Regions from separate parts of the Homo sapiens genome. Here regions 2 and 3 are each reported to be linked to region 1. The links are microRNA targets in miRTarBase. Many come from high-throughput screens and were not tested one by one. Region 1 holds a microRNA gene; each other region holds the end of a gene's coding sequence.

Region 1 (7,201 bases):
CTAGCTTAACTCCTTTTTCTGTAAATGAAATGCATGAACCAGGCTACCTCCTTGATATCACCTAGCTCTGTGATTCTGTAGTAATTCGAGAATATTATTAACTGGCAACTTCTCAGAGTGTCTCCCTGGCCACACAGCCTAAAAGTAACCATGAGCACTCTCCTATCAAACAATTTTCATGTTCAGCATAGTACTTGCCCAAGACATTTTTCTTACTTTTGCATCCCCACTGGACTGTAAGAACCAAGAGAACAAGACTTTGCTATATTTACTGGCACACCCCAGGGCCTTACACAACCTAATAGGCACCAAAAAAAATGTCTGCTGAAGAAATAACACTCATGTAATACTAATAATGCCTCTTTGCCCAACTTTAAAAAGCAAATAGTACATACTAGACATGTTCTGCATTTTCTAAGTTTTAAGAAATCAATTTTCCCACATAAAGTATTATGTGCTTTGTATTAATCTTACAAGCAAAGGTTTTAAAAATACTTAGTAACTGCCACGTTGTTAGTAACTTTAAATACAAGATAATAATATAAAAGCATTTTATCAATTCCAAAACCACCTGCAAATTTTCCGAATGAAATTGCACGGCAATAAAAATCTTTATCAAAATAAAGCTTAATGAAGCAAAGAACAACAAACACAAATCATCCCAGTAACTCAGGACGGTAGTGTCTTTCTGAAATCATGGTGACTTGCTAGCTCTCCTCATTTCTGTGTACAGCCAGGGCACTCGGGTATTGATAGCGAGATACAGATAAATCTCACAGATAACTCCATCATATTTAGAATCACACAGCTCCTAGTGGGTACCTTATTGCCATTAAAACTTTCCCCCAACTCCTCAACACTCTCTTCGGACCATAAAACTAAAATCCCACAGCTTCAAATCTGCTCCTCTGCCTCCCCCTCCCGCAATTAATCCTTTCGAACTTTTCCCAGGGGATTCACATCTGCCATCAAGATGCTTTCATCCTGCTACTATTCCTAAGTGCCTGCTTCCTCCCAGTTACGTAGGTACTCTCGACCCAGAAAAAAGGCACGGGCGAGGCAGGCGTCCCTCCCTCCCACCCCAGCTTCTCCCCGACCCCCAGCAGGAGCGCCCAGCAGGTGCCTCGCTCCGCACCGCGGCTCCCGGGCCGCTGAGAGGCGGGGCACACAAAGGACCCGCATGGACCTCCCCCCCGGCCTCCTAGCGTCTTCCCCCACCCCCCACAGCCCGGCGCCCCGGGTAGCTGGAGAGCGAGGGCGGCGGCCGCAGGCTCGACGGAGACCAGGGACGCTCGCCCCGGTCGCCCCCTCCCTGACCCCAACCCCGCCCACGTCCCACCCACGAAGGCTGCCCAGAACGTAAACCCTCGCCCGGCAAAACCGAAAACGCATCCCCAGCCCGGCTGCCCGGGCCCTGCGCATCCAGCCCGCAGCCTCCCACGCCGCGCCCGCCAGCCGGCGCCCAACGGCCGCCCCCGACCGCCTCCCACGGCACCCGGCTCTTTCCCAGCCCCGGAAGGGTCCCGGTCCCGCCGCCCGCTCCCCCACCTCCCGGGAAGGGCCCGACACCCGCCCGGCCGCCCCGCACTCACAGGCTGCCGGAGCAGGAGGTACACACGAAGGAGCCGACCGTCATGTTAACGTAGGTGGGGCCGCGCTGGTCGCAGTCGAAGCACTTTCGGTTGTGCGGGAGGCCGGTCATGTCCCGCAGCATCTTCAGGTGCTTCTCCTCCTGCTTCCGCTTCGCGCTGGCCGCCATGGCCGCGGCGCCAAGGGAGGAGGCCGGCAGGGCCGGGAGCCGGGCAGCGCTGCGCCGGGGGCCCGCGGTCCCACGGGCCGCCCTGGCCGCGGCCGCCGCCCTCCGTCTGCGCGCGCCGCCCGCGCCGGACCCGGCCGCAGCGGCTTGGCTGTACTGGGCTCGACGCGGCCCGGGCGCTGTGGTACGCGGGCTGACGGGCCACACCAACCGGCACAGCCGGGACAACCGCCGCCGCCGCCGCCACCTTCCCGACTTCTCCTGAGGGGAAAAGACGAGGAAGGGGACGGCAAGAGGAGGCCCGCCCTGGGCGGCCGGTAGCCAAGTGTCCGCTGGCGCCCTCTGCTGGCCAGGAGGAGTCACTGCGGCCTCGCTGAGGCATGGGCCGGGTCTGGAGCCAAGTAGGGTAGACACAATGGTGATAATAATATTAATAATAGACAGTATTTATTGAGCGCTTATATATGCAAAGCGTTTCACATGGGTTACCTTCCCCTTCTGTTTAAAACTCTTCAAGGGCTTTCCACTGCTTTGAGTATAATTCCAAATTCCTCACCGTGCCGTAAAAAGTGCTCCATAGTCTAGCCCAGTCTACCTCATTCTTCGTCGTCCTCACTCAGCCACACTGGATTTTGAGTTTTCTGAACACAGCAAGCTCCTTTCTGACTCCTGCAGGACCTTTGCCCTTGCTCTTCTCTCTTTATCTTTGGGCCAGCTAATTTGGGGGGGCTTGGGGTGTCCTGTGCACTGTAGGATACTGGGCGGCGTTCCTAGCCTATACCCACTAGATACAAGAACAAACCCCCCAATTCCCATTGCTGGCAACCAAAAATCCCCAGACATTGCCAAAAGTGGAGGGAACTTTAGGGCGGTGCAGTCACCTGGCTTGAGAACTGCTGCGTGTGGAAACCCGGATCATCCATAGCTGACATCCTCTAAGTCAGGTGGGGCTCAGATGTCACCTCCCCCGCCAGACTGTCCCAGATCAGCCGAGTTAATGTTGCAGCTCACCTTTCTCGAAGTTGCTCTCCATCAAATTGCTGCGTTGTATTTTCGTCTCAGTTCTAGCTATTTGAAATACTGCATCTTATTTCGTGTTTACCATGGGTGATCTGGACTCTCCCTTTAGGCGCTAAACAGCCTGGCCCCCGTATTTTCTGTGCCACTCCACCCCATTCCCCTCGCAGAGCTGGAGACTAGGTGTTCAATGTTGACGGAATGAATACATGAAATCGTTCATGTAATCTTCACAACAACCCTTCGAGGTGAGCGTTATTGTTATTTACATTTTACAAAACAGGAAGATGAAACCCTGAGGGATTAAGTAAATTTACCCAAGGGTACCTATGGCGAAGCTCAATTCCAACCCAGACAGCCAGACTGCAGGACCCAAATCCCCACTGCAACAATCAACTTCGTCTCTCGTTTTCCAAAGGAGTACAGGGAGACCCAGAGAGCTGAAGTTCTCAAATCACTGGGCTGTTGAATGGATTAGAATCTACGTTTCCTAACAGCCAAGACCAACCTCCACATCTCTCATGAAAGGGATTGGGTGAATCAACAAAGTGAGACTTCATATTAATATAATACTACTAATAATAATTAATGTTTTTAATATTAAAAGAAATGGACAGATAGATTGGCCAATGAATGTTTTTAAACTTTTCTATTATGGAAAATATCAAACTACCATGAGCCCATGGACCACTTTCAGCAATGATTAAGCCCATGGCTAATCTTGCTTTATAAATACCTCAACCCTCCATCCCCTCTCCTATTATTTTAAAGCAAATTCTAGGTTTCGTACCATTCATCTAAATGGTACATAGTTCCATTTGTATCCCTAAAAAATAAAAACTTTATCTCTTTCAAACTTAGCCATGATACCGTTAGCATATCTAAAAAGTTAACAATAGGCTGGGCACGATGGCGCACACCTGTAATCCCAGCACTGTGGGAGGCCAAGGCAGGTGGATTACCTGAGGTCAGGAGTTCAGGACCAGCCTGGCCTACATGGCGAAACCGGGTCTCTACTAAAAATATGAAAATTAGCCAGGCATGGTGGCATGCACTTGTAGTCCCAGCTACTTGGGAAGCTGAGGCAGGAGAATCACTTGAACCTGGGAGGCAGAGGTGGCAGTGAGCCAAGATTGTGCCACTGCACTCCAACCTGGGCAATAGAGCAAGACTCCGCCTCAAAAAAAAAAAAGTTAATAACTCCTAAAGATCATCAAATATCGCACTAGTGTTTAAGTTGGCAATTATCAATATTTTAATGAGATTTTTACAGTTTGTTTGAACCCACTCCTTGCAACTGGGTAATATGTCTCATAAGGTTTCTTTGGGTCTCTCCACCATCTCTTTTTTTTTAATTATAATTCATTTGTTTTAGTAATTGGGCACTTTATTCTGTAGAGTTTCTCATAATCTGTATCATTTAACATGTCCCTCTGTTCTATTTCCTAAAAATTGGTAGTTAGATCTAGTTCACTAGTATCCAGTTCAGTATTTTTGCGGGGCAGGCATTCATTTCATTGTGTTCTTCCATCAAGAGGGACATAATTGAGGAGAGGATATCTTTTTCATGATGTTGGTAACCATTGATGATTAATGTCTAGATTCATTAATTCATTAATGATTAGAAAATACTGATATTCTAATTCTGCCATTCTGGCTGGGTGCGGTGACTCACGCCTGTAATCCCAGCAACTTTGGGAGGCTGGGGCAGGAGGATCATCTAAGGTCAGGAGTTCGAGACCAGCCTGGCCAACATGGCGAAACCCCGTCTCTACTAAAAATACAAAAATTAGCTGAGCATGGTGGCAGGCACCTGTAATCCCAGCTACTCGGGAGGCTGGGGCAGGAGAATTGCTTGAACCCAGGAGGTGGAGGTTGCAGTGAGCTGAGATCCCACCACTGCACTCCAGCCTGGGTGACAGAATGAGACTCTGTCTCAAAAAAATAAAAAATAAAAATAAATAAATAAATAAAACTAATTCTACCATTCCTTCATTTATCAGCTCAAATTTTCTATAAAGAAAAAATTTCCCCTCATCTACCATTTTATTTGGTATAGTACATGTCAGAAAGGCAGGATAAATATTTGATTCCTTTCCTTTATTCACAAATTTTCAAAATAATGTATTGGCTTCATTTCACCTTCCAGTGGTGATCAATATATATAGACAGAGATATATAGATATATCTATATTTATATTTTGGAGACAGGGTCTCACTCAGTCACCCAGGCTGGAGTACAATGGTACAATCATAGCTCACTACAGCCTCGAACTCCTGGGCTCAAGTGTTCCTCCTGCCTCGGCACACCCCCTCAAGAAGCTAGGACCACCACTCCCGGCTAACTTTTGTATTTGTTGTAGAGACAAGCTGTCGCTATGTTGCCCAGGCTAGGCGATCAATATTTTTAAAGTGCTATTACAAACTCAAGGATTTAAATGTATTTAATATATTTTACATCCCCAGTGCTCACATTGTCTCATCATTGGCCAGTGGGAACCACTGAAAGCTGGCTTTTGAGTATTTTGACAAGACCCTTGACTTAATCCTGAAGTCAACTGAAGTTTTTGTTGTTGTTGTTGAGATGGAGTCTCACTCTGTTGCCCAAGCTGGAGTGCAGTGGTGCAATCTCAGCCCTGTCTCCTGTATTCAAGTGATTCTCCTGCCTTGGCCTCCCAAGTAACGGGGATTACAGATGCCCCCGACACCACACCCGACTAATTTTTGTATTTTTAGGAGAGATGAGGTTTCAGCATGTTGGCCAGGCTGGTCTCCAACTTTTGACCTCAAGTGATCCACCAGCCTCAGCCTCCCAAAGTGCTGGGATTATAGGCATGAGCCATTGAGACTGGCCCTGGAGTTATATTCTGACAGGGCCCCGGGCCATTCAAGAGATGAAAGCAATGTTGAATTCTTGACTGATCCAAACAGAAGGCTTACTGACCAGCCCCATGCTGGCTAAATATGACACCCAGCAGTCTCTTATTCATAACCAACAAATGCCCTCACGCCACAGCCAGTGGCTTATTTGTTTCTATATTTGCAGTGCTCCTTTGTCATTTGTTTGTTCTCTGGTTGCTCATCTCTCCATGGTCTATCATCTGATAAATTCCAAAATCAGAAGGCATGGCTGTAGCACCTTATGTATGCAAACAGTGGAATGAGTGGTTGGTTGATTATTGTGTTTTAGTTGTTTTAAAGAGACAGGAGTAAGGCTGGGCACAGTGGCTCATGCCTGTAATCCCAGCACTTTGGGAGGCCAAGGCAGGAGGATTGCTTAAGCCCAGGAGTTTAAGACCAGCCTGGGCAACATAGTAAGACCTTGTCTCTACAAAAAGAAAAAAAAAATTGATTAGCTGAGTGTGGTGGCATGTGCCTATAGTTCCAGCTACTCAGGTGGCTAAAGCCAGAGGATTGCCTGAGCCCAGCAGGTTGAGGCTGCTGTGAGCCATGGTCGTGCTACCGCACTGCAGGCTGAGTGACAGAGCGAGTGCTACCGCACTGCAGGCTGAGTGACAGAGCGAGACCCTGTCTCAAAAAAAAAAAAGAGAGAGAGAGAGACAAATGTAGGTGCAGTATTTCCAAACTATAGACCTGTAGGAAGGCGAATGTTTTCCTCAAGCTGAAAGTTTATACAACCCTTTTGGATGTTAGCTGTTTCATGCCATACATAGTATCAAAGTTGGTTTCTACTTTAAAATATCCCAAGGAGAGTTTGCTGTGTATCAAGCAAGACTACTTATTTACTTTAATTTCCGTAACTTTCATAACAACGCAGAAAGAGGTATTATTACCGCTGTTTTATATATGAGGAAACTAAGGCTCTGAAAGGCTGGCCTGCCCAAGGCCATGCCAGAAGTGAGGCATGAAGCCAGGATTCAAACCCAGATCTGGCTGCCAAGGCACCAGCTTCTGCTTCCAGTGACTGAAGACTGATCCTGCTTATTGGACTTGCAAAGCAGAAATTACCTTTAGAGATGTTAACACTGCAGCCAGAGTAATCTCTTCAAAATCCAAATGTGATTCAGATGTCCCCAGTTCCCTCCCCCTACTTAAGCTTTTGCATTGCTCTTAGGATGAAAGAAAACCTCAGAGGCTCAGACGCCCTGCACAGGCAGCCTCCTTCCTGCTCACCCTAGGTCTCTCCCAGCCTAGCCCAGCATCCCCCAGCAGCGCCCACCTGCCCTCCGCCGCCCCCTGGCCTCTGCCCCGTGCCCCAGTGCCTTGGGCACCATTCTAAGTCCCCACCACTCTGCTCCAGCCCTACTTCCTCTCAGTTCTTTACATTCTCCTGGCTCCCACCACAGGGCCTTTGCACACACTATTTTTGTTGGTAAAAATGGTCTTCCATCTCCACTTTCCCTTCTCAACCATAACAGATCCAGCTTAATATCTGTTTTTCAGAGATCCTTTCCTGACATGCCTAAA
Region 2 (7,201 bases), not on the chromosome of region 1:
TATTTGCATGTGATGTGTGTGTATGTGCATACATGTGTGAGGGAGGAAGGATGTTGGGTGGAGCTAGGTGAGGAGGAGAAGGTGGCGCTCACAGAGGGAGAGGAGCATGGAGAGACCAGTCAGGGCCTTGAAGGGGACCAGAGGCAAAGAAGCTGTGTTTACAAAAGACATTTCAGACTTGGTCACAAGCAATGCTGCTTCAGGCCAATTGACATAGGACAAACAGCGTTGGAAGTCCCTTCCCACTCCTGCCCTCATTGACCCCAATTCAAGCCAGTGTGTCCCACTGGCCCCTGAAGTTCCAAGGCCACCACCTGCAGAGGACAGGGTGAGGAGAACAATAGCTACTCAAGGAGAATAGGGGAAGGGGTATGTGCAGAGAGCTCTTTAAATGAGCAAAAAATGTAAGATATTTGTGTTCCATATGAATGTTTACTAAACAATAACCTTAGCAGAGACTTTAATAAATAAGTGGATAGGATAACCTATTCTGTGGATACCAGTCAGACTCTTTGCCCAGCCTCTCCTGTCATTTCCCAATGAGCTCATGAACAAAGTGGCCATGGTGGCAGGTAAGACAGTGAAGTTGTATTGCTGCCCTTGCCAGCTGAAAACAACCTGATTCTGGTAGTCATTACTAATAGGTAAGAAGAAAAAAAATCCAGATCAATAGCTGCATAATAGGGGATATGCTAATTTGCTCAAGGAAATACCACATCTAGTACATCTGTAAATGGAGTCACCCCCTGGCTAGGCTTGTAATAATTCAGTGTATTAGTCTGCTCGAGCTGTCATAACAAAATACTATAAATTAGGTGGCTTAAATAATAGAAATTTATTTCTAGTAGTTCTGGAGGTTGGGAAGCCACCAAGGTCAAGGTGCCAGTCGATTTGTTTTCTGATGAGAGCTCCTTTTCTGGCTTACAGATGGCTACCTTCTCATATCTACAACTATCTGATCTTTGACAATCCTGACAAAATAAGAAATGGGGAAAGGATTCCCTATTTAATAAATGGTGCTGGGAAAACTGGCTAGCCATATGCGGAAAGCTGAAACTGGATCCCTTGCTTACACCTTATACAAAAATTAATTCAAGGTGGATTAAAGACTTAAATGTTAGAGATTTTTTTTTTTTTTTTTTTTTTTGACAGAGTCTCTCTCTGTCACCCAGGCTGGAGTGCAGTGTCGCAATCTCGGCTCACTACAACCTCTGCCTTCCGGGTTCAAGCAATTCTCCTGCCTCAGCCTCCTGAGTAACTGGGATTACAGGTGTGTGCCACCATGCCTGGCTAAGTTTTTGCATTTTTAGTAGAGACGGGGTTTCATTGTGTTAGCCAGGATGGTCTTGATCTCCTGACATTGTGATCTGCCCACCTCGGCCTCCCAAAGTGCTAGGCTTACAGGCATGAGCCACCACGCCCGGCCAATCTAAGCTTTTTAGAGCTCTTCAAGGATGCTGAGCCTCGCCTCACAAACATATGTTTCACAATTGTGATGAAAGGTGAATCATTTGGACCTTCCACGGTGGGTGATTTGTCATTTCATGACAAATTCATTCTAATATTCCAATCTCCCTAATGCTCTGAATCTCTTCCTCTGCAGCAAAGCAAGGCAGGCCTGTCATTTCTAGGTCACACACACTAGGCCACCTTTCAGTCCATGTTTTGACCAGCCAACCAAACAAACTCTTAGGGCCTTTTCTTACTCCCCGAACTGTAACATTGCCTAGAATCTCTGCAATCAGTTCAGCCTCATCCAATCTTTTATTCTTTCCACAATTGTTCCACACTCTTAATATCCATTCCCACATGTATTCCCTAAATGTCTGTCTGTAAACACTGTAGTTCTTTTGGAGTGTAGTGCTCCCTTGTCATGGGTCACATGTTGTACCTCACCATTGGGGACCTGCTGGGACTTCACTCTAGAAGCAAAATGAGGTGATAGGGAGGGGTCCTGAGAAGAATCATCATTGTCTTTCAAGGCAACTGCCTCACAGGAGCCCATTACAGTTTTCTTAGGAAAATCAGGGTCAGCCTCCTCAAGTGGGTGTAGAAAGGCTGCTTCTACTGGCAAAGAAGACTCAACCAAACCAAACTCAGAGGTATAGTGTTTCCATGGTCATCAGGATTTTCTCATTGGTCCTCATTCCAATTTTCAGGGTCCCATTTCTTCTTCTTCTTCTTTTTTTTTTTTTTTTTTTGAGACAGAGTCTCACTCTGTCACCCAGGCTGGAGTGCAGTGGTGAGATCTTGGCTCACGGCAACCTCTGCCTCCTGGGTTCAAGTGTTTCTCCAGCCTCCGCCTCTAGAGTAGCTGGGATTACAGGCGTGTGCCACAATGCCAGGCTAATTTTCGTATTTTTTTTTTTTAGTAGAGACAGGGTCTCACTATGTTGTCCAGGCTGGTCTCGAACTCCTGACCTCAAGTGATCCACCGACCTCCGCCTCCCAAAGTGCTGGGATTACAGGCATGAGCTACTGTGCCAGGCCCCCATTTCTTCTTAATCAGTGGCCTCACTTTAACTGTAGACATGCTGAGAATTTGGAAATTTAATTGGCATTGTAATTCAGTCATTCACTGAAAAGATTTTGGGTTTAGTTTTTAGCAGTCTCAGCTCTGAGACTACAGAAGATAAGGGTTTCTTTCAGAATAGACATAGAAACTTTCAGGTTATTTATGTGCTGCATGGTTATTTATGTGGTGCACAAACTGAGGATTCAAATCCTGGACCTCATCATTTTCTTCTCCCATCTCACTTAACACAATGAGGAGAAACCAGCCAATCTCTTTATATTCATTAGTTTGACAAAAGTATTCACAGGTAGCAAATCCATAGCCACTCAAAACCTTGTCTCTTATAAGCATTTGATTAGAAACATCCAATAGTGATATTTTGCAAATCCCTATAGCCACATTTACTATCAGTGTTCTCTTCACTATGGGAAATAGGGTTCATTAGTGCATTTAAATCTAGTTAGGCTAGAAAACAAATTCCAGAAATCCCAGAACTCATTCAGAAAACTTGTCCTTAAGATTCTATTCCTTTAGATTCTGTTATGTTTTGGTAAAGTAAGTGTGAGCAAGAAAGAGAGAAAGAGGACTATTTTGCAGCATTGGTTCAAGTGACTATCAGGGATGGAAAAACCAAAATTTGTAAGGAAGGATGGCAGGATGCAGATTCAGGGGAGAGCTGATGTTGCAGTCTCAAGTCCAAAATCATTCTGAGGGCAGATTTTGTTTTAACTTTTTATTTTCAGTTTAGGGGTACAAGTGCAGGTTTGTTACATAGGTACACTTACGCCATGGGGGTTTGTTGTACATATTATTTCATCACCAAGGTACTAAGCCTAATACCCACTAGTTATTTTTCCTGATCCTCTCCCTTCTCCCACCCTCCACCCTCTGACAGGCCCTCTATGTGTCCACGTGTTCTCATCATTTAGCTCCCACTTATAAGTGAGAACATGCAGTGTTTGTTTTTCTGTTCCTGTGTTAGTTTGCTAAGGATAATGGCCTCCAGCTCCATCCATGTCCCTGCAAAGGACATGATCTCATCCTTTTTTACAGCTGCATAGTATTCCATGGTATATAGGCACCACATTTTCTTAATCCAGTCTATCATTGATGGACATTTAGGATGATTCCGTGTCTTTGCTATTGTGAGTAGTGTTGCAATGAACATACATGTGCATGTGTTTTTATAATGGAATAGTTTATGTTTCTTTGGGTATGTACATAGCAATGGGATGGCCGGGTTGAATGGTAATTGCTGGTCTTTGAGAAATTGCCACACTGTGTTCCACAATGGCAGAACTAATTTACACTCCCACCAAGAGTGTATAAGCATTCCTTGTTCCTGGAGGCAGAATATTTTTTCCGTCTCTGGATATCAGTCTTTTCTCTTAAGACCTTTGACTGATTGGTTGAGGCCTGCCCATATTATGGAGGGCAATCTGCTTTACTCAAACTCTGCTGATTTAAATATTAGTCGCATCTAAAAAAAAAACATGTTCACAACAACATTTAGACTGGTGAATGGTGCTAGAGCAAGATCTAGGAACCATAGCCTAGCCAAGTTGACACATAAAATTAACCATCACATATGTACATATTTTTGCAAATACAATGGCAAATAAAATTCAAAAAGGCTGGGCACAGTAGCTCACACCTGTAATCCTAGCACTTTGGGAGGCTGAGGTGGGTGGATCACCTGAGGTCAGGAGTTCGAGAACCGCCTGGCCAACATGGTGAAACCCCATCTCTACCAAAAATACAAAAATTAGCAGGGCATGGTGGCAGGTACCTGTAATCCCAGCCACTTGGGACGCTGAGGTGGGAGAATCGCTTGAACCCAGGGGGCTGAGGTTGCAGTGAGCCGAGATTGTGCCACTTCACTCCAGCCTGGGCAAAAGAGTGAAACTCCATTTAAAACAAGCAAACAAAAAAAATTTCAAAAAACATGTTCAACTTTACTGATATTCAAACAAATGCAAACAAAATAAAAAAGAAATATCTTGAATTTGAGAAAGGAGACTAACAGATTTATTTACTTATTTCAAAATGACAATTATTTTAATGACTAACAAAATAGTATGTGACAGTTGGTAATAAACATATTTTGAGATGGCAATGTGAATTGGCATAACAATTCTGGATAGCAATTTGATACTTATTGAGGTGTAATGAGTTTAAATTTATAATAAGCAAATCTTTTTACACAAAAACATTGTGTTATAGGAATTTACCTGAAAGTAGAGTTATAATGTAGGAGAGATAAATGGATAAGGATGGTCATCACAGGAAATTAGATATAATAAGAGTTCAACAAGAAGAAATTGTAATGGCCTTCCTTCAAGTAGTTGTGTTGCAGGACATTGCTGATTTTGCTCAGGACCCATCCTCACCACCTCTCTTTGCTTTACATATGTACATAGACTCAGGGTATGAGATAAATATATTTTAAAAAACTATACTCAACAATACCAGCAACACTATAATAATAATAACAGTTTTGTAAAAGAACATCAATTATACTAAAAAAGTTTTGGGAAAATGTTTGAAACAAAATAGATGTTTAGGCTGGGGGCTGTGGCTCACGTCTGTAATCCTAGCACTTTGGAAGGCTGAGGTGGGCAAATAACTTGAAGTCAGGAGTTCAAGACCAACCTGGCCAACATGGTGAAACCCCATCTCTACTAAAAATACAAAAAGTAGCTGGGCGTGGTGGCACACACCTGAAATCCCAGCTACCTGGGAGGCTGAGGCAGTAGAAATGCTTCAACCCAGGAAGTGGTTGTTGCAATGAGCCGAGATGGTGCCACTGCACTGCAGCCTGAGCGACAGTGAGACTCCAACTCAAAAAAGAAGTTTAACTATTCTCTCCTTCATAAGTTTTTAATTCAAAGGAATAAATATTAAATTTGCAATAGAGAAAGCTGGCAGATCAAGTGGTCAAAGTTGTATCTCCAGGAATGGGACAATTAGACATCATGTAAGGCTTGATATCATGCTCTAAGGACAACATCACTTTTGTAGGATATTTGCAAAAATGTGTAATCTGAGCCTGGTCAAGAAGAAACATCAGAGAAACCCAAATTGAGGGGCATTCTACAAAACCAATAGTTCTTTAAAAAGGTCAATGTCAAGGAAGACAAAGAAAGACTGAAGAGCCATTTCGGTTTGGAGGAGACTGAAGAATCATGGCAACTATGTCAAGGCAATGGAGATCCTGGATTGGATTTTGAACCAACAAAATTGTCTTTTGTTATAAAGGATATTAGTAGGAAGATTGGCTAAATTTGAACAAGGTCTGTAGATACTAACATCTTGGGAGAGCCTGGAGATGAGGACAGAGTATGAAAAGCAATGAAAAAATAACAATCAGTCAAGGCAAAAAGGAATGCATATTTCTGGTTTTATTGTTTCACATCAGGCTGAGCTATGCAAAAAGACAAGCTGCAAAGGGATATAGGTCTGTGCTTTGGGCTTCCCAGAGCAACCACACATACGCAAACTGAGGTCATTAAATGGCTTGGCTTTGGGGGAGAAGTTTTGGGCCTCTGAACTCCAAGACAGAAGAATCCTCTATGCTTGAGTTGAGCCCTCACCAAGACCTCTCAACAACATGGGCAGGCCCAGAAGGAGAAGGAAGACGGAAGGGAAATATTTGGCCATTTGTGTTCTTCTAGGCTCAGGATCCACTTTAGCAGCAGCCTCCAGAGTGCTGGCCACTCCCTCCTCCACAGCAGCTGGAGCCCCCGGAGGGCTGGCTGCAGCAGCCAGAGCTCTGGGGTCTGTGGCAGTGGGACCTACGGCGCCTGTGGTGGCTCAGGCAGCAGCCACCTCCCCCAGAACTGCAGCAACCCCCAGAGCTGGAGCCACAGCTTCCCCCAGAGCTGGAGCCACAGCAGCCTCCGGAGCTGACACTGCAGCAGGAAGAGACTGGAGGACACTTAGGGGGACACTTTGGGGGGCATCTAGGGGTGAGGCACTTGGGAGGGCACTTGGGGATGCACTTGGGAGGGGGCTGGCACTGCTGCTGGTTCTGCTGGCAGGACATCTTGGTGCGGGTGTTCAGGAGCTGAGAGAGAGTCAGACAGCAAGTTAGACCCAGGTAGAGGCCACCCCGGCCTATTCTTGCCCTTTCAGCATCATTTCTAATCCCTACATTTTGATGAACTGCTTAGTGTAGTTGTAGCTAATTAATCACGGGAAGTTTCATTGTGTCTAATAGTTGGCTAAACACACTTATAGCCTCTGTTTTGAACCTAATGCTTTTTATATACTTATAAAATCATAAAGCATTTTCAACTATTTTATAATTAGAAAACCGAAGCCAAAAGATATTAAGAAAGTATTCTCAAAATCAAGCATGTAGTATGTAGAGGAGACATTCTGCTTCAACTACACACCTGAATCATGAAAACAATCTAGAAAGGGGTTTGGAAATAAAATTGTTTCTCAAGGGGAAACAGTCATTCTCTCTTGGAAGAATTTTCTAGATTACCTTGTTGTAAGGACATAGAAGTTCAGAACTGCAAAGGAAGTTGGAGGAAAAATATCATTGAATTAAGTGAGAATTGTATACAGGTTTCTGACTTAGTCCAGTGCTCTGACATTTTTCAGCAGACAAACACCTGTACTGAATGCTCAGCACTTATATTTTGTTTGTCTACCGTACTTGTCTCACCAAGTTAAATA
Region 3 (7,201 bases), not on the chromosome of region 1:
CACTTTGTTTTGATATTCTTCCATTTCACTACAATGTTTATAGGCATGTTTTAATCTTATTTAGAATGCATTGTGATTCATGGAGCTATGGATTCATGTTTATCATCAACGCTGGGAGTTTTCCAATCATTTTTTTTTTTTTTTTGAGAAGTAGTCTCCCTTTGCCGCCTTGGCTGGAGTGCAGTGGTGCAATCTCGGCTCACTGCAACCTCCGCCTCCTGGGGTCAAGTGATTCTCCTGCCTCAGCCTCCCCAGTAGCTGGGATTACAGGGGCCCGCCACCACACCCAACTAGTTTTTGTATTTTTAGTAGAGACAGGGTTTCACCATGTTGGCCAGGCTGGTCTCGAACTCCTGACCTCAAGTGATCCGCCCGCCTCGGCCTCCCAAAGTGTTGGGATTACAGGCGTGAGCCACCGTGCCTGGCCTCCAATTACCTTTTAAAATATTGTCTCTTCTCCATCCTCTCTGCTTACTCTGGAACTCCGATCAGAAGTACATTAGACATACTTATCCCATTCTCCATGATACCTAACTTTTCTTCCATATAGTCCTCTTCTTATCTCTTTGCTGTCTTTTGGGTAAAGTATTTTAAAGAGATAAGTATCTAGTTTATGCTTTTATTTTGCATTAGGTTAAAAATGCTTAACATGAACAAATCTTAAATGTACAGTGACAGTTCGGATGTGTGTCCCTGCCCAAATCTCATATTGAAATGTAATCTCCAATTTTGGAAGTGGGGGTTCTGGTGGGAGATGATTGGATCATCGAAGTGAAATAATGCTTCATTTTAATTCATATTGATGTCCAGTTGCTCCAGCACAATTTTTCCAAGTTAGGAAAACAACAAAAAACCCTAAAAATCAGTATCTAATTTAGGAAGGTATAGATCAAATAGTCTGGGCCACTAAAACACTTAAGCTCATACTAAGGAGATCGATCATATTGGAGAACCTTAAAAGGTAAGATTCAGAAGTAATGGCTGAAGAATGTTAGGGCTATTTATCCTTGACAATGACTCAAGGAGGAATTCTACAGTGCATTGGAAGAGCAGGGAGGGGACTGGGAAACAGAAAATCAGAGGTCTAGTACTAAATTGTTTGGTTGGATTTGATAAGCTCCTGAGTTACATTAGGTTTGGAATCCTGGTCTACCCCTGGTTTTAAAATCTCAAGACATTTACACCTTTTGAGTCAATTCCTAGGAGATAAGAACAAAAGAAAATGGGTTATTTTTCCTAACTTGGGCTAAAACACTTTGACCTTTAACAAAGAATGCCCCTCCCCATGTCAGCCTGTAAAATTTTTTATCTGTTTCAAAGCCTAGTTAAAATGCCATTTTCTCCATGCAACCAAGATTTTGCTAAAAGAATTACTACTTTCAGAGAACACAGATCACCTTCTGACACTCCCGAGGCTCAAAGACAGTATTAATTAAGAGCAACTTACATAAGACAAACTAGTATCTGTTAAGTCTGGCTTTCTAGGATGTTGCTAATCATTCTTTGGGAGAAAAAAACCTTGAGAGGTTCTCCACTGGCCTCAGGATGTAACCTAAGGTCTATATACGTTAGCTTCTAGACAGTTCATACTGTTCTTATGTATTCAACTCTGTTCCTGATTACTTCCTAATGTTTCATTCAGAGCCAACTTCTATCCATCTTTCCTTTAGAACGAAGTTTCTAAAACATCTATCTATTGTCAAGTGCTGGTGAATAACCTAGTGTAGTAAATAAAAAAACACAGGACTAAGATTCAGAGCACTCAAGTCAAAAACTCCAGTTGTAACTAATATTCCTCTGTATTTATTGGATCTATAGGCTATTAAGAAATCACATGACACCACTGTATAAACACAGCACTCTATGAACATAAATCTTGAATTGATTCAATACATATTAAGGCAGTCAGCTGGTCTACACAGTGCGAAAATAAAGAAACAGAAGGGAAGTCAGGCTGAGGCAGAATCGCTTGAACCCGGGAGGCAGAGGTTGCAGTGACCTGAGATCATGTCATTGCACTCCAGCATGGGTGACAAGAGTGAAGCTCCGTGTATATATATTAAAAGGGGGGGGGGGCAGGGGGAACATTTAATTACATTTTGCTTGCCTGAGTTTTATCAGTGTATAAATGTCACACTAGAACCTTAAGAAATCATGAACTCACAAATTACTTCCCTATCACGGCTCCCAATGTTCAGTAATAAACACACACACACAACTTGGAACACCTGTGCTCAATTTTAACCATTATTTTGCCAGTGCCTTCAGTGCAGAGTACTATTAGTAGAACCAACAATTTCAGATTTATGTCAATGTTGAAATACAAAATATATTTCGTCCTGGTTTCCTCAAGACTGGACAATGTTTGATGTTAACTACAATACAGAAAAACTTAAATAAAATAGACAAAATGTAAAGAGGGTAGGCACTACATAGCATTTTATCTTTGTCATTTGTATTTTGATCTAACATTATGTGGATTCATTTGGTTATTCTAACAAGTTCTCACCTCTGTATTTTTAATATCAACTTTCACAAAGGCTGAAATTAAAACATGAAAAGTGTTGGATAAAAGTCAATAAACCTGTGGAAGATATGCAAGATTTCTTTGTACACTATGAGGGAGTTGGATTACTTGACCTTTGGGTTCCTTCAGACATCACTAGATCTAACAGATACAAAGTGCTCAAGATAAGGTTTGCTGACTGAATCAAGCGAGCCTAAAACTTAACCTGAAAATGGCAATGGATTTTTGTTCCACACATAGGATAATCCAAAAAAGTGTGATTATGTTCTCAATAAAATGTTGATATATTACAGAAAAAGCCATATTTTCATGAGCGTATTTTAATTTTTAAAATTTGAACAATTCAAGTAAAAGTCAGCTAGATAACATAAATACAGAGTAAATGCACATAATTTACAGCCATGTACATAAATGCAAGATACCAAACCTCACATGAATAGTCAAAAGTTAACACTTTTGAGGTTCACTATTTAGCTATGACTGATAGGTCATAATTCTTCACATAAACGGGGTACACATTCCAAAAGTTTATAAACACAAAAACTGAGTCAAACCAGAATTTTGTTTCTACAAGGAGTAGCATAAAAATCAGTGTGTAGGTTAATGGGAAATACTAAGTACATGATGGAGAAGAGATCTGAGTGGGCAGAAAGTTTGTACATTGTATTTTATGTATTAAAATTCCTCAAATTTAAATCATTCAGAAATACCTATATTCTTAGGAATGTTAAAGTCATTATATATTTGAGGAGAAAAGGCTGAACTGTACTTATCAGCTCCAAAGGGGGTCCCTAGATTACTAACAGTCTGGGCAGAAGAGCATGTAAACAACAAAAGGCAGGCATGGACAATTATTGAAGGGCAAGAAATGGATTGATTTTTAGCACTTAAATCCTTCAAATCCGAATAAATATTTTTAGTGATTTAAAACCAACCTAAAAATGCTGAAATGTCTGTAACCCAGTAATAGAGCAAACATTATTTTTACCAACCCAAACTCTGCTGGTCCTAACATAGTAATGCTATCTCACAGATAATCTAATGATATTCTATCCTGACTTCAAAGTTACAAATTCACTGTGGTGGACCCATCTAGAAAGGATGGTTCTACAAAGTTACATAATGAGAATCAAACGAACTTTTGGTGATAGTTTTTTTCCTGGGATTAAAACCACTGCATGGTATCCCGAAATCACAAACGCTAATTCTTCAGATTTGAACTTTGAAATTTAAAAGTACAACAAACTAAATAATGTGGACTCTACACCAGAAATAAAAAAGTCATGATAAACAGATGAAAACAAGTTAAAAAAGTCCAATGCTCTGAATATGTGTTTTTGTTTTTAAACATGAGTCGATTTTTTAAAAACTTCAAAGAAATATTTCAGAGACAAACTTTATATACAACTTTTATATATAGTTTTCCTTTTTGAATTATCTCTGTCATACATAAACTATTGCAGATTGTGCTTAGGGAAAAATACAACTGAAATAAACTTCATTGCTCCTTTCTAGTTGTTGCACAAATAAACAATGTCCAAGACTCTAAGATTTCTTTGCTTTCCAGTACATACATAATACTGTTAAAAGCTGAATATAATGCACTAAAGGTCAACACAAGTTTTACTTGCTAAATACAAATAGAGAATATATGTTTATCCTTGAAGGACACTTGTTATGAATATGCTACAACTAAATAATAAGATGTTCCTTAGCTGCTGGTTTTCATATCATTCTTAATCATTTGTGGGGTACTGAGATCAGTAAGACTAGGGAGAGTCTCTATCTTACATTCAACACAATGAATGTTTATGGGTCTTCACAAGGCAAATGGCACTGTATTAGGCAGTAGAAATGGCACCTGAAAAGGCAAACACGATAGATTCAGACCTTCTCTACAGATTTGTTACAAACCGGTTTTTGGTACGTTCCTCATAATACATGTCAAAGCTGAAATTTACCATAAAAGGTACGAATAATTCCAAAGGTAAGAAAACTGATTTTGCCTTTGGTCTCCAAATAGATTGGAATATTTTTATTCCAATTGAGCACCTCAAAAACATCCAGTTACTGTTGATCACAAGGAAGTTAAAGTGGGGGAATTTAACAGGGCACTATGTTTCACTGGTGACAGCAGAGAAAGCTTGCAATGACACGCTGCAATATTCTATAATGTTGGGGGTACGACAGGGTACACAGAATACCTAAAACATTTATATTAAGGATATCCGAAACAACATATTTAAAACCCAGAAAAATGTTATGAACACTGTTTCTGCCTAATACGTGACCAATGTTTTTGTTTTTTTTTTTAATCTTAACATGGTATTCTCTCCTACTCTCTCACCCTCCCCCCCAAAAAAGGCCACAAAGTGCTTTCACGAAGCGTCATTCTTTTAGATAAAGCCATTGCACAAAATGTACAGTTCAGGTATACTGAAATGAGTACCACACCGGCGTCCAATTGCGGCAGTTTTTATACACCAGTATGGCATAGGCGAAGTCTTTTAACAGAATTACAGCAAACACCTTTATAAGGGCCATACAAATAACACATTTAAAGTATTAAAAGGTACAGCTGACTCAATAGCAGAATTTAAAAGCTACATCCTATTAGCACATTTAACCCAAATGAACTTGAATCTTTCTATGATTTACCACGCAGGAAACTAGGACAGAATAAATTTCTTGTCAAAAGCAGTTTGTTCATTTACACAAAACTATAAGTCAATTAATGTCACTACCTGCTAAAGCAGACAGCAAGGGGGCCCTTGTCTATAATATTTATACTGTCCCAAATATTGTCACCTTAAAATGGCAAAACTTTAAATTACTATTTTCTTTACAAAATAAATGTAATCTATTATATATAGACCTGGAAAAAACTCAAAAGTTCAAATTCTTAATGTGAAAGCAAGTAGGTAAAGATTCAAAAGTGAAAAAATCTTTTACACTTTATGTAAATGATACTTAAGTATGACAAAGAGGTGATAATTCAAGTTCGTAACTAGTAAGTCACTAAAAAGATAAATGCATTCATTCATGTACCACAAAATCAGAGAAGACACGAGGACATGCCGCAGTCAGTGAAAAAGCCGAGAAATCAACATTTTACTAGTTATTTTGTCCCAAACTATTACCATGTGTGTTTGGTATGTTAACAATTTAAATATCCACATTAGGCTAAACAACAAGCACCTGTCAGCAGTGGAAACCAAAACATTTTGATGCTAAAAAATATACAAGATATTTAGACGCTATTTCATTGGTTGTCAAAAACAGTGACTACTGCCAAATAATTAAATTTAAAATATTGTGCCAGGTCCTCTCAGGGAAATGTGAAAATAATACTGACGATCTCATTGTCATTGCTGTTATTTTACTGGAATTAAACAAAGGCCAGAAGTTATAAATTTATGACTGCCAATACTATCTTTGGATAGTTACAATACAGTATGTAAAATTAAGGATGGCTTTGTTTAGAAGACTGCCATAAATCAACAAAACCCAACTGTGTCTGGGGGACATGGTAGAGAAAATGGCAATTTTGAGAGAGGAGTGCTTCTAAAGGCATTTCCTTGGAGGCTCTGAGGTTTTTTTTTTTTTTCACATTACCGAAAGGCCAAGTAATGTGGTGTGATTACTATAATTCCTACAACAAAACTTCCACTTAGAATAGTTACATGTTCCCAAACTATTTTTCTTCTGTCTGCCATGCTGGCTTCTGTATCCCATGGTCCACTGTAATCTTTTGGTCTTCTTTTTTTGCAGTACAGCAGTCCTCGTGCTGCTATCCATTGAGTAGGTAAACCACCAATTCATAGGTGGCCATCATAATGGCTGTGTTTGGAATCTGTCTCACTAGATGAGTTGTCAGACCACGATAAAGAGACCCATAACCTTCTTCTTGAACAAGCAAAGATAGAGTCTGAAAAAAAGATCTGTATTTTGTTCCCTCTTCACGTAGTCTTGTTCTTACAACTTCTGTGTAGGAAAGAAATAAAATTAAACATTACTGATATCTTTACACTCTTCTAATTATAACTGAGCACATCCCATTTATCAGTCTGTAAGTGTAAGCTCAGGATAAAAAAGGATGGCTTCTAATGTGTAGCTTATTGAAACCAGTCACATTATAGTAACATCAAACTTCTAATATGGCCAAAATCATGTACATTAATTATAGACTTTATAGTCTTTGAATGTAAAAAGACACAATATAACAAGAGAGAAGTATCAGTTGTATGCTAGATAAACAGATAAAAGGAAGAATAGAAATGAGAAGGAGGAAAAGGTGAAGAGGCAGTAAAGAGGTGGCATCCAGGATGAATATAAAAAGGATACAGTGAGAAACAAGCAGAAAAGATTTGTTTAAAGTGAGTACTACAAAGAAACAATAGCATTATTAATCTATTCAAAACAGTCCACATATATGAATGTGAAACATCATGTGGACAAAGAAGTTGACAATGTTCCAAACACTAGCTGCCAGCTATAAAACCCAGTCTGGGAATCAGGTAAGCAAAAATAATAAATTTTTAAGAGCTGAATGAACCTTAAAGATTAGTCAGTCCAATTTTTCCTCATTTTAAAAGGTGAGAAATTGGAGCTACTGAGAAATTTTGGCCAGTTGTGGGTAGAAGCTGGGACAAGAACTCACAGCTTCCTATGTAA

The links. The annotated mature microRNA hsa-miR-5703 reads AGGAGAAGUCGGGAAGGU and lies in region 1 at 2,002-2,019, opposite strand. An mRNA with a match to its seed (bases 2 to 7 or 8) in the 3' UTR can be bound and repressed. Matches are read on the target gene's strand: a 7mer-m8 pairs with bases 2 to 8, a 7mer-A1 pairs with bases 2 to 7 and ends in A, and an 8mer does both.
Region 2: the mRNA of LCE1B is a reported target of hsa-miR-5703. Seed matches in the 3' UTR shown: 7mer-m8 at 6,142-6,148 and 7mer-m8 at 6,044-6,050.
Region 3: miRTarBase lists SLC25A36 as a target of hsa-miR-5703. Seed matches in the 3' UTR shown: 8mer at 3,153-3,160.

The regions. Positions count from the first base shown.
Region 1 is chr2:227,466,980-227,474,180 of GRCh38, reverse strand. MIR5703 (microRNA 5703) reads right to left here and starts at 2,049; the gene lies at 1,994-2,049. AGFG1 (ArfGAP with FG repeats 1) reads right to left here and starts at 2,025. Exons shown (of 13, transcript NM_004504.5): 1 at 1,593-2,025. The coding sequence starts at 1,759. It overlaps LOC124907994 (a long non-coding RNA gene), which reads left to right and starts at 2,082. Exons shown (of 2, transcript XR_007088114.1): 1 at 2,082-3,021; 2 at 3,192-3,393. RefSeq lists a silencer at 1,317-2,036 and an enhancer at 2,149-3,112.
Region 2 is chr1:152,811,806-152,819,006 of GRCh38, reverse strand. LCE1B (late cornified envelope 1B) reads right to left here and starts at 7,036. Exons shown (of 1, transcript NM_178349.2): 1 at 5,899-7,036. The coding sequence starts at 6,560. The coding sequence ends at 6,204.
Region 3 is chr3:140,975,570-140,982,770 of GRCh38, reverse strand. It overlaps SLC25A36 (solute carrier family 25 member 36), which reads right to left. Exons shown (of 7, transcript NM_001104647.3): 7 at 1,776-6,511. The coding sequence ends at 6,318. Among named protein-coding and RNA genes, the nearest start is that of SLC25A36, 37 kb to the right of the region's middle.